2 separate regions of the Homo sapiens genome follow, and region 2 is linked to region 1. The links come from fine-mapping of genetic effects on gene expression. A gene starts in region 1. The other region holds a variant in brackets. All regions are shown on one strand. Distances are from middle to middle. Region 1 holds the start of GXYLT2 (glucoside xylosyltransferase 2). Region 2 overlaps GXYLT2 (glucoside xylosyltransferase 2).

What was found. PIP is the estimated chance that this variant, and not a neighbour inherited with it, causes the effect.
Region 2: its variant is fine-mapped to the expression of GXYLT2 in lung (TOPMed, PIP 0.98).

The regions. Positions count from the first base shown.
Region 1 is chr3:72,885,060-72,890,435 of GRCh38, reverse strand. GXYLT2 (glucoside xylosyltransferase 2) reads right to left here and starts at 2,390. Exons shown (of 7, transcript NM_001080393.2): 1 at 1,928-2,390. The coding sequence starts at 2,202. RefSeq lists silencers at 1,891-2,020, 2,121-2,350.
Region 2 is chr3:72,970,437-72,975,789 of GRCh38, reverse strand. GXYLT2 (glucoside xylosyltransferase 2) reads right to left here. Exons shown (of 7, transcript NM_001080393.2): 7 at 1-813. The coding sequence ends at 631. Among named protein-coding and RNA genes, the nearest start is that of PPP4R2, 24 kb to the left of the region's middle. RefSeq lists a silencer at 4,568-4,697. The variant C/T (reference allele first, on the strand shown) is at 2,909.

The DNA of each region.
Region 1 (5,376 bases):
CCATTGGTGCTTACTTTGCAGAGCAGGTTCTCAAACTTTGTTGTGCATGAGAAACAATGGGAGGGACGTGTTAAAACACGGTTGCTGACCCCCCAAAGCTTCTGATTCTGTAGGGTTGGGGTGGGGCCCAGGAATCTGCATTTCTAACAAGTTCCCAGATGATGCCTGTGCCACTGGTCTGAAGTCCACACTTTGAGAACCACTGTCAAAGGGTTATGGTTGGGCCCGGCGCGGTGGCTCACGCCTGTAATCCTAGCACTTTGGGAAAGGCTGAGGCAGATGGATCACTGGGCTCAGGAGTTCCTGGCCAATATGGTGAAACCCCGTCTCTCTACTAAAAATACAAAAATCAGCTGGGCATGGTGGCACACGCCTGTTTGCCAGCTACCTGGCAGGCTGAGGCACAAGAATCACTTGAATCTGGGAGGCCTGAACCCGGGAGGCAGCGGTTGCAGTGAGCAGAGATCGCAGCACGGCACTCCAGCCTGGGCGACAGAGGAAGACTTTGTCACAAAAAAAAAAAAAAAACAAAAAAAAAACCAAAAGAAAAACAGCGGTGGGGGGGAAGGTTATGGTGTGGATTATGTAGTTGTATATGTTAAGTGTTAACTGTGACTATTTGTATGTACTGCGGTTAGCACTGTCCCTGGCAATAGGTTAGCGATGTTAAGGATGACAGTTATTATTATCTTACCAGTTGTCCCATCAAACTTAGCAATCATATTAAACTTGCAGTTAAACCCTAATTAATCTCTTACAAGAAACTCCAGTATAGAAGAGGGGAAATCCTATTAATTTCCTAACAAAGATATCCTTAAAGACTGTATACATCCAGAAAGGGCTGTAAAGTGTTATAAGTACTTTAAAGCGACAGATTGTTGGGGTTTTTTCCCCCTAAAACTTGTCAGTACCCATTTGTACTGAGACAGAAGGGAAACAAAGGCTGACACAGCTACTTCTTGAGGTTTCGTGTCTTTTAGTTACAGTAAAGGCACCAAAGAGATTTAGTCATTATGGTCAAAAATAATTTTTCAACTCCTTTCAGGTTGAAATTAAGGAGCCCAGCAAACAAGGACGTTGCAATGGCAGTTAGAAACAACAGTTTTGAAAGGGCAGATGAAACAGACTCGCTACAAGACAAGGGGATTGTTGAAAAGCCCTCCACAACAAAGGAAATGAACTCAAATCCCTAACCTGCGGGGCGTTCCAGCAACCCTGAGGCCAAAAATAAAGCTCTCTGATGAAAAGCCTCCGCGTGTTAGGCTTTGTGTAGGGAAAGAGAGTATCAAACAGAAGGTCGAAGGTTAAGTTGTTTTTCTTGTAGGAGGACCCTTTGACCACACTCGAGCCTGAAACAGAATGAGGATCTGGAAACCCCCACTCTGTCTTTTCTGTGCCACGCATCAGTCCTTTCAAGGAGAAAACTTCTTTTTAATAAACTTAGGTCAAGTGTCCCTTCTGTTCTAAGCATGGGGGTACTCGAGGTTAAATGAGAGGCTGCCAGTCCTTGGTAAACATCTAACTTTTCCAACTCAACCATATCTAAGGTTTCGGTAAAATTCTCCAGTGAAACATGAGAATTAGATAAAACATTCTTGCACCGTGATGGCTTTTGACAAATTAAACAAAGGGTGCATGTTTGCAAGAGTGCAAAAATACGCCTTGCCTTGACAGTTAAAAAATGTAATGTACGAAACCACTTTCCTTGACACTTCAAAAAATGTACGTGATTATCAACACCGAGCTGTTAGGGGGACTCCACCAAGGTGGGTCTTCTTTTCTATCGGGTTAAGAAACAGAAGTGGGCAGCCCGTGGGTGAAACTTGGAAATCTGTCTCTCCAGCGCAAAGCCTCCCTTGGACTTGGCACGGGTGTAGGGAGCGAGACACGGGTCCGCAGATGGGATTCTGGGGTTGCCACGACTCACCTCGCCAACTTCTCCAGTCTCGCAGCGCCCCGGCGGCCCGCTCGGGGGCGCGGACGCGGGGGCCGGCGCCTCCGAACTCCCGGGCTGGCCCCGGGGAGGGCGCCCGGCCCCGGCCAGCGCGCGGGGACAGGCGCGGGGTGGCGCTGCGGGGCGGACGCGGGGCGCGCGGGCAGCGCTGGGGGCTCAGCGCGGCCAGCGCGCAGGGACAGCAGCGCCAGCAGCAGCGCGGCCAGCGCGAGCAAGAGCAGCGCCGCCGCCTTGCTGCGGAGCTTCATGGTGCGGCGCGGCGGCGGCGGCGGCCCCCAGGCGGCTCGGCCCCTCTGCGCATCGCGGCGGCGGCAGGATGAGTGCAGCAGCGCGCGGCGGTCGCCTCCTCCGCCCGCCCGCCGGGGACTGGGGTCGTGGCGGCCGGCGGGCGGCCGGCGGCGGCGGCGACGGCGAAGGAGGAGGAGAGAGAGGAGAGGAGGGGGAGGCGGTGAGAGCTGGGTTACAGGAGGAGCAGCCTGCGCCTACCGTACTGTGTGGAGTAGCCGCCCCTCCGCCCGCCCGCAGCCAGGCTCTCGGGCTTCTGGTAGCTCAGACTCAAAACCACTTCATTCATTCATTCGTTCGTTCGTTCGTTTACTTCCCCATTCACTCACACACCCATGCCATCCACTGTTCCCGCTGATTCTCTCATACCATGATTCACTTATTTGTTGATGTATTCCATGTGCTTCCTCCTTATTTATTTTATCCATCTATCCACACATTTGTGCACTTATCCACACATCCTTTCAGGCAGGAACATCTCTGTCCTGTTTGCCCAGTGCAGGGATCTGCGGGTGGTGGTGCCCAATAAATATCTGTTGAATAAACCCCTATTGCCGCCTCTGTCTTGCCACCTCCCTTTTTCCTGGAGGAGGACATATTCAACAAGGACACATGCAAAATAAGGCAAAGCGAGTAAAAGTAACACGTGATTAGTAGTTGGGGTTTCAGACTCAAAACACCAAAGTAGAACTTGGGACAGCTAGACTGGACCGAACCGATCCATGTAGTCTGAAGAAATTAGAGAATGAATTTCAAAGTTTGGATTTGAAATCTGACACTGTGCTTAACTGGCTTGGTGATCCTGAGGAAGCTGCACAACTTTCTTAAGCCTTAACTTCCTTACGTGCAAAATGGGAATGACAATACTGCTCACTACAGAGGCGTTTTGTGAGCATTAAATTAAATAATGCCTTCAAAGAAACTAGCACAGTGCCTGGCTCACAGTCGGTGCCCAATAAAAGTTCTGTAATGATTAGTTCAATAAAACATAGCTTATAATATACACATAAACACACATTTTATTTTCTTTCTGGCACAGATTTGAGATAGAGTAATAATTTCACAACACAATGTAAGAATGGCTTCTTTGGAGACTTTAACAGCTGCAATCGCCAGATGAAGGTCGTAATTTCCAGACGATTCTTCCAGGGGATCCCCAGTTACAAATCTGAAACATTAGGACACATCCTCTTATGACTCACGGTGAACTGACAGCCAGGACTCCATTAACTCTCTTTTCAGCACACCACAGAACAAAGAACACTAGTTAAGTTATAACAACGTCCCTGAGTTTTTCAGTTTTTTTTTTTTTTTTTTTTTTGGATCACTCTGTAGCCCAGGCAGGAGTGCAATGGTGCAATCTTAACTCACCGCAGCCTCCGCCTCCCGGGTTCAAGCCATTCTCCTGCCTCAGCCTCCCAAGTAGCTGGGATTACAGGCTGCGCCACCACACCCGGCTGATTTTTGTATATTTAGTAGAGACGGGGTTTCACCACGTTGGCCAGGCTGGTCTTGAACACCTGACCTCAAGTGATCCGCCCGTCTCGTTCTTCCAAAGTGCTGGGATTACAGGCATGAGCCACCGCGCCCAGCCCGTCCCTGAGTTTCTACAAGATTCCATGTTGCTTTATAAATAATCTAAAATTTAGTTATATTCTGAATTATTCTCATATTAGCATTTTATTTTAATTCCTTGAGAACCCATTGTATTAAAAGTTCTAGAGATGAGAATATTTAGTAATTTGGAAGCTCTTGCCAAGCAGACATCTAGGAAATGGCAGGGTGCAAGTTCAGTGTGGGGGACATGTTGTAGGTGAGTAAGCGCAAAGAATCCATTAGTTCTCAAAGATGAGGGAGAAGGTTCCATCCTACCAGGAAGCATCTGGAATTGTGGGAAGGCTGACAGGTTCTACTAGCATATGCAAAACCTCCTGCAATGCTCAGGACATACCAACAACGAAAACTATCCTGGCCCAATGTGGGACCCTGTTGAGAAACACTAGGCCAGGCTAAGGCATGATGTTTAGATCTTTCAGGTTTAGAAATGGCCACCACTCTGTTGACATGTGGCCCAGAGAAGCAGGCATTCCCAACTCTGTCTTGCCCCCTCCCTTCTACCTCTAGGAGGACAGATGCAACAAGGATAAACAAAGGCAGAGTGAGTCAAAGTAACACTTGATTAGTAGCCAGGGTTTTAGCCTCAAACACCAAAGAATCATGGACCAAAGAGAGGACTCAGTTTTCTTGAACCTCACTGAAGCCAAAAAAAAAAGCCTAATCTGCCTCCTTCCACTGAGTCCAAACTCAACTTTTGGATTTGTTTGGATTGCTCTGATTGGTGGAAAACTACATCCTCTAATTTTTTTTTCTTTGGATGTGGTCAAATCTCATTTTAGTTGCAAAAGACTTCATTTACAGCACATTCAATAATGAACCAACAGGAGAGTTGCTGACTTTGGAACATATGAATATATAAAAATCCCTCGCAATTCAGGTAGTCAAGATAATAAGCACATACAAGGAAAGCAAACCTCATTTCTCTGAAAACGTTTACATTTTAAAAGATGACTAGGCATACTTGGACGTTCAAAGCAGTAGGATGTCCCTTGCAGGGAAAGAAGGAGGAAAACCCTTTTCCGTGTTGTTAGGCAAATGTATATCAAATATATCCCAATTCCACTTGATAAAGTCAGTTGGATGACCTCCTTGAACCAGGCTAGGGCAGAACACTTAAGAGGGCCTTGGGTGGGGATGTGAATCCAGGAGAAGAGGAACACCAGATCCCATGCAGTGCCAAACACATCTGTTCCACCCTCTAACACAGATGAGGCACGTCGCCCATGTCCCTGGACACCAGATGCACAAGAACAGTCATCAGATGGTTACTGCTCCCATGGCCTGGTGTTTTCTAATGGTCTTAATTCAGGCCATGGAGAAAATCCTTTACCACCAAGCGCAAACTGTCATCGAACTTAAATCATAAAGGATGTTATGGGGGAAATTCTTGTAACACATACATAAGGACTTCTATTTAACTAATTAGAATAATGATTACATAATTGACATTCCTGTTTTCATAAGGTTTTGTTTTCTACACTGGAATGGCTTAAGAAAAAGTTGTCTATTTTTGATTTTAT
Region 2 (5,353 bases), 85 kb before region 1:
CCACATAAAAATCTCAGCAAAAAGGCCAGCTTTTACTGAGATTACCTGTTTTAGATGTGTGTTAGAGTGGAAAATGCAAAAGTAGAGAAAAAAGGTTGTAAGGAACTGCTTTAAAATGGAAACAATCTTTTCCACTGGTCAATAGGATTATGGCTAATCTAATCTTGATGTTGAGCCCTTGACCCATATGCTCTACAAGTGTGTCTCTCTGTTTCAAAAGTGTGTATTACTTTTATAACACGGGTGTGGGGGAGTCAGTTGCATAGAAAGAGTCTCAGGAATGCTAGATCAATATAACACCTCAGGTGCCACTGAAATGGTCTCAGACGTTTAGGAATTAGAAGGCTCACAAAAGCTATTTTCACAGCTAGCTCAACCTGCTTAAACAATGTTAAATGAGTAATAGTCTTTTTTTTTTTTCCTTAGAGATAAATAGCATTTTAGAAAAAAAAATAAGGAAAAGCATATTCCCTTTTGGGGGCAACTGATTTGGCAAAATTTAACGAGGTTTTTAAAACTCAACAGTCATGGAGCACCATTAAATATTCACACAAAAAGACCCAGGCAGCTTAGAGATTAGTATTTCCTTGGTCACAAGACACCTAATTGACTTGCAACAAGACAAAATATTCAGTGCATCTGGTTGGGGCCAACATGGATGATGACGTGTTTCTCATAAGCCCTTTTCATTGTTTTCTCAATTTGCTTCAGAAAAACTTGCGGGATTCGTCCACATAAAGTGTGCACAGTCTCCAAAAACTTCAGCTGAAGGGGGTAATACATGGATTGAAAGAGATTGTCTTGAAAGGGAAACTGAAAGATGACAAAAAAAAAGTTTATTTAGTAACGGAAATGCCATTTTAAATGCAGATCATTTTTACTAAGAAATGACACAGGAATTACGATAAGCCCACAGGCACAGGTTTGGACAAGTGAAAAGACCTTTGAGGATCTAACTTAAAATCCTGTCTCAGCTGTGCAACCCCAGGTAATCATTTAAACTCTCCGAACCTCAGTTTCTTTACCTCTTTAAAAAGAAAAAGGCTAGGCATGGTGGCTTACACCTGTAACCCCAGCACTTTGAGAGGCCGAGGTGGGAGGACCACTTGAGCCCAGGAGTTTGAGACCAGCCTGAGCAACATGGCAAGACCCCATCTCATTAAAAAAGAATAGTAATAAAATTAAAAAAAAATTTGGGTCCTTAAGGGTCTTACAATCTAAAAATGATGCATGTCTCTAAGGACAGGAAAGTCCATATATCATAGCATGTTTACGCTGAGTAGAAGGAAGGCTCAAGATACTCACTTGAAATCTACTACAACAAAACAATGAATTCTTCATCTTTTTTGACCTTAATGAAGAAACTTTAGGGTATGTCTATGGTAATCTCGTGAAGTTCAGGGTTTAACAATTACTAGTAAAATTTATTGGCAATAAACCAGATTTTAATAATTCAGGTACCAAATATTAGTGGTTGTTTATTTCCCTCTTAATATTGGGCTTTTGAGATCATCACTGCCATTTTTTAAAATTCTTTTGTTTTCTTCATGGAATACGTCTATGAGCAGTATAACCCAAAATAAATCTTTCAGACCACTTAGTTACGCACATGTATCAAAGTTTTATTACAATCTTGTTGAAAGGGAAAAGTCTGGTAGTAGATCAAGTCAAAGATCCACTCTTGGTCAGGACATTTTATATGGAAAGACTAGTGAGAAATGAAAGAAGAATGGTTAAAGATCAGTACACTCTTGCCTAACAGGAGAGGTGGGTGTCTGGTTTCCTAGAACAAATGTTAATCCTTTAAAATTAATCAGAAATACTGCTTACACAGGTTTATCAGAGATGCCAGTTTCTTCTCGGAAGGAGATTATGCATTATGTAATGCAAGAAGGTTCTCTCCCAGACCAGGTTGGTTTGGGATACTTTTTCTTTAATCATGAAATTTAAATCATTGATAAACCCCTTGAAGCCAGTCCTGAATCTGTCCTTTTCACCACTGTAGCTCCAGTAATGGGAACAGGATAGGTCAAAACCTTGGAATCACCCTCAATTCCTCTCTTTCCCCCCACAACCCTCATCCAATTCATCAGCAAGTCCTGTAAACTCTATCTCAACAGCATATCCCAAATATGGCGACTTCTTCCCATTTCCTGCCACCACGCAAGCCCATGCTGGCCCCATTGCTCACCCAGGTGGCTGCGATTAGTCTCACAAATAAATAGCCTTTGTGTTTTCACTCTTGCATCCCTTCCACCACATTACCAAGGTGATATTTCTAAATCATAAATCAGAGCCTATCACTTTCCCGAAGGGGCTTTCCACTGCCATTAGAATGAGATTCCAACTCCTCCCTTGTTCTAAAGGTTCAAGGTGACCTGGAAACTCTCCCCTCTCAGTTCCTCCTCTCTCCTCTTATCTGGCCATTCCTGTCTTTCCAGCACACCAAATTCATTCCTGCCTCCGGGACTTTCCCCTGGTCATTCCTTCTGTTTCACGGGATTTTCCCCAGATTTCCCCTGGGCTGCCTCCATCTGATAAGTCTAGGACTTACAAGCAGCCTCCCTGGTGCCCCTCCCCCAGCTGGTAGAACACTCCTCTCCAGCCCAGGACTTTGGACCCATCAGCCCACTCTTTTTACACCTTTTGAACTCCTTTCACCTTTCACTATCTCAGAGGATTTTTTTTTCTTTTGAGATAGGGTCTTGCTGTGTCACCCAGGCTGGAGTACAGAGGGGCAATCACGGCTCACTGCAGCCTTGAACTCCTGGGCTCAAGTGATCCTCCATCTCAGCCTCACAATTAGCTGGGACCACAGGCACTTGCCATGACGCCCAGTTGTTACTATTTTTTTTCCTAAAGAGGCAAAGTCTTGCTCTGGCTGGAGTACAGTGGGGCCATCCTAGCT[C/T]ACTGTAGCCTTGGCCTCCTAAGCTCAAGAGATCTTCCCACCCCAGCCCCAACCCCTCCCCACCCAGTAGCTGGGACTACCTGCATGTGCCACCAGGCTAATTTTTTTTTTTTTTTTTTAATTTTTGTAGAGACGCATCTCACTATGTCGCCCAGGCTGAATTTTTCTTTCTTTTTCTCAATCAGTATTGTCTGGCTTCCCCCACCAGAATATATGCTTCTTTTTTTTTTTTTTTTTTTCCGAGACAGAGTCTTGCTCTGTCACCCAGGCTGGACTGCAGTGGTGCGATCTTGGCTCACTGCAACTTCCACTTCCTGGGTTCAAGAAATTCTCCTGCCTCAGCCTCCTGAGTAGCTGGGATTACAGGTGCCTGCCACCACGCCCGGCTGATTTCTGTATTTTTAGTAGAGATGGGGTTTCACCATGTTGGCCAGGCTGGTCTCGAACTCATGACCTCAGGTGATCCACCTGCCTCGGTCTCCCAAAGTGCTGGGAGGTGTGACCCACTGCGCCCAGCTCAGAATATATGCTTCTTAAAGACTAGGGCTTTGTTCATCTTATTACCTTCCAAATTCCTAGAAACTAGAATTGTTCCTGCATAAAATAGATGCTTCATAAGTGACTGTCAAGAGAATTACTGCAAAAATGTCTATATGATAGATGCCTTCTTGTGGGGAGGCTGCACTGCCCTTTCACACAAACACGTACACACAAACACACAGGTTAGGATGTCTATGAGCACCTGAAACAGAGAGAGAAATAGAGAGAAAGAGAGAGAATATTTTCAGAGACAGATGAAGGGAGAAAAAGAAAAAGGTATATAGAGAGAAACTGTTTATAAGCAAGAAGAGAGAGAGAAATGTGAAAAAGCTAGAGAAAGTGTGAAATTGTTATCATCAAAACAACTTCCTTATATCTTTTTTTTTTTTTTTTTAGATGGAGTGTCACTCTGTCGCCCAGGCTGGAGTGCAGTGGCACGATCCTGGCTTGCTGTAACCTCTGCCTCCCGGTTTCAAGCCATTCTCCTACCTCAGCCTCCCAAGTAGCTGGGATTACAGGCATGCGCCACCACGCCCGGCTAATTTTCATGTTTTTAGTAGAGACAGGGTTTCGCCATTTTGGCCACGCTGTTCTCGAACTCCCGACCTCAAGTGATCCACCTGCCTCAGCCTCCCAAAGTGCTGGGATTACAGGTGTGAGCCACCGCACCTGGCCAAAACAACTTCTAATTATTGCACAAACTGTATGTCAGGCTCTGTACTAAAAGCATAAAGACTATCATTTTGTTGAATTTTCATAACACTTGTTTGAGGTAGATAATCTTATTATCTACACTTGACTGATGAAAAAACTGAGGCCCAGCAAGGTAAGGGCACAGTTAATGGCAAATCACCAGAAAGCGGCAAAATTGGGATTTGAACCTGTCTGTCCAGGCCCAAAGCCAAGCTCTGACCCACTACACAATGGTTCACAGCATTGTAGAGAATGGGGAAATACATCTTTTATGATGGAGTCTCTTTACATTTACTCACATTTTGGGTCAGGGTTAGTCATTTTTCTGATTGAAATGCCTGAATGAAAACTATATTTTCAGGCCCAACTGAGGAAAATCATGGAGTGTACTAAGCAGAATCATTTATGAAACAAAGTTGTTCAGCCCTCTTTCTGATCCCCCAGAAAACAAACAAGATGAGTTGCAACTCAAGAACCACAACTGCTCAACTCCAAACCAGGGGTGACAGATCACAAAAGAAACCCAAGAGTGGCTCTGATAGACACACGGCTGCTGTGTACTTATTTAACTTCTGCTCGTACTCCTGAATGAGTTTGCCCCTGGAGTCAGTGTTTGAATATTTAAATGTGAGGATATCATTAAGCACAGAACAAATTTTCTGCATAATTAAATCACCTGGCCTTTGAAAACCAAATAGCAGGAAATGCAGAAGGAAAAGCTTGGATGCATGCTAAACACTTTCCCTGTACAGAAGTCAACTCTAGAAATTGCTTTTTTCTTTTTTTGAGATGGAGTTTCACTCTTGTTGCCCAGGCTGGAGTGCAATGGCATGATCTTGGCTCACTGCAACCTCTGCTTCCCAGGTTCAAGTGATTCTCCTGCCTCAGCCACCCGAGTAGCTGGGATTACAGGCATGCGCCACAACGCCCAGCTAATTTTGTATTTTTAGTAGAGACGGGGGGATTTCTCCATGTTGGTCAGGCTGGTCTCGAACTCCCGACCTCAGGTGATCCACCCACCTCGGCCTCCCAAAGTGCTGGGATTACAGATGTGAGCCACCACGCTCAGCCAACTCTGCGAATTTCAGAGTTAGAATTCTCCAGGACTCTCCCTAGCAAATGCATACTTTCTTTTTTTCATTTATTTTCTTTTTTTTAATTTGTTTTTTCAGAGACAGGGTCTTACTATGTTGCCCAGGCTGGTCTTGAACT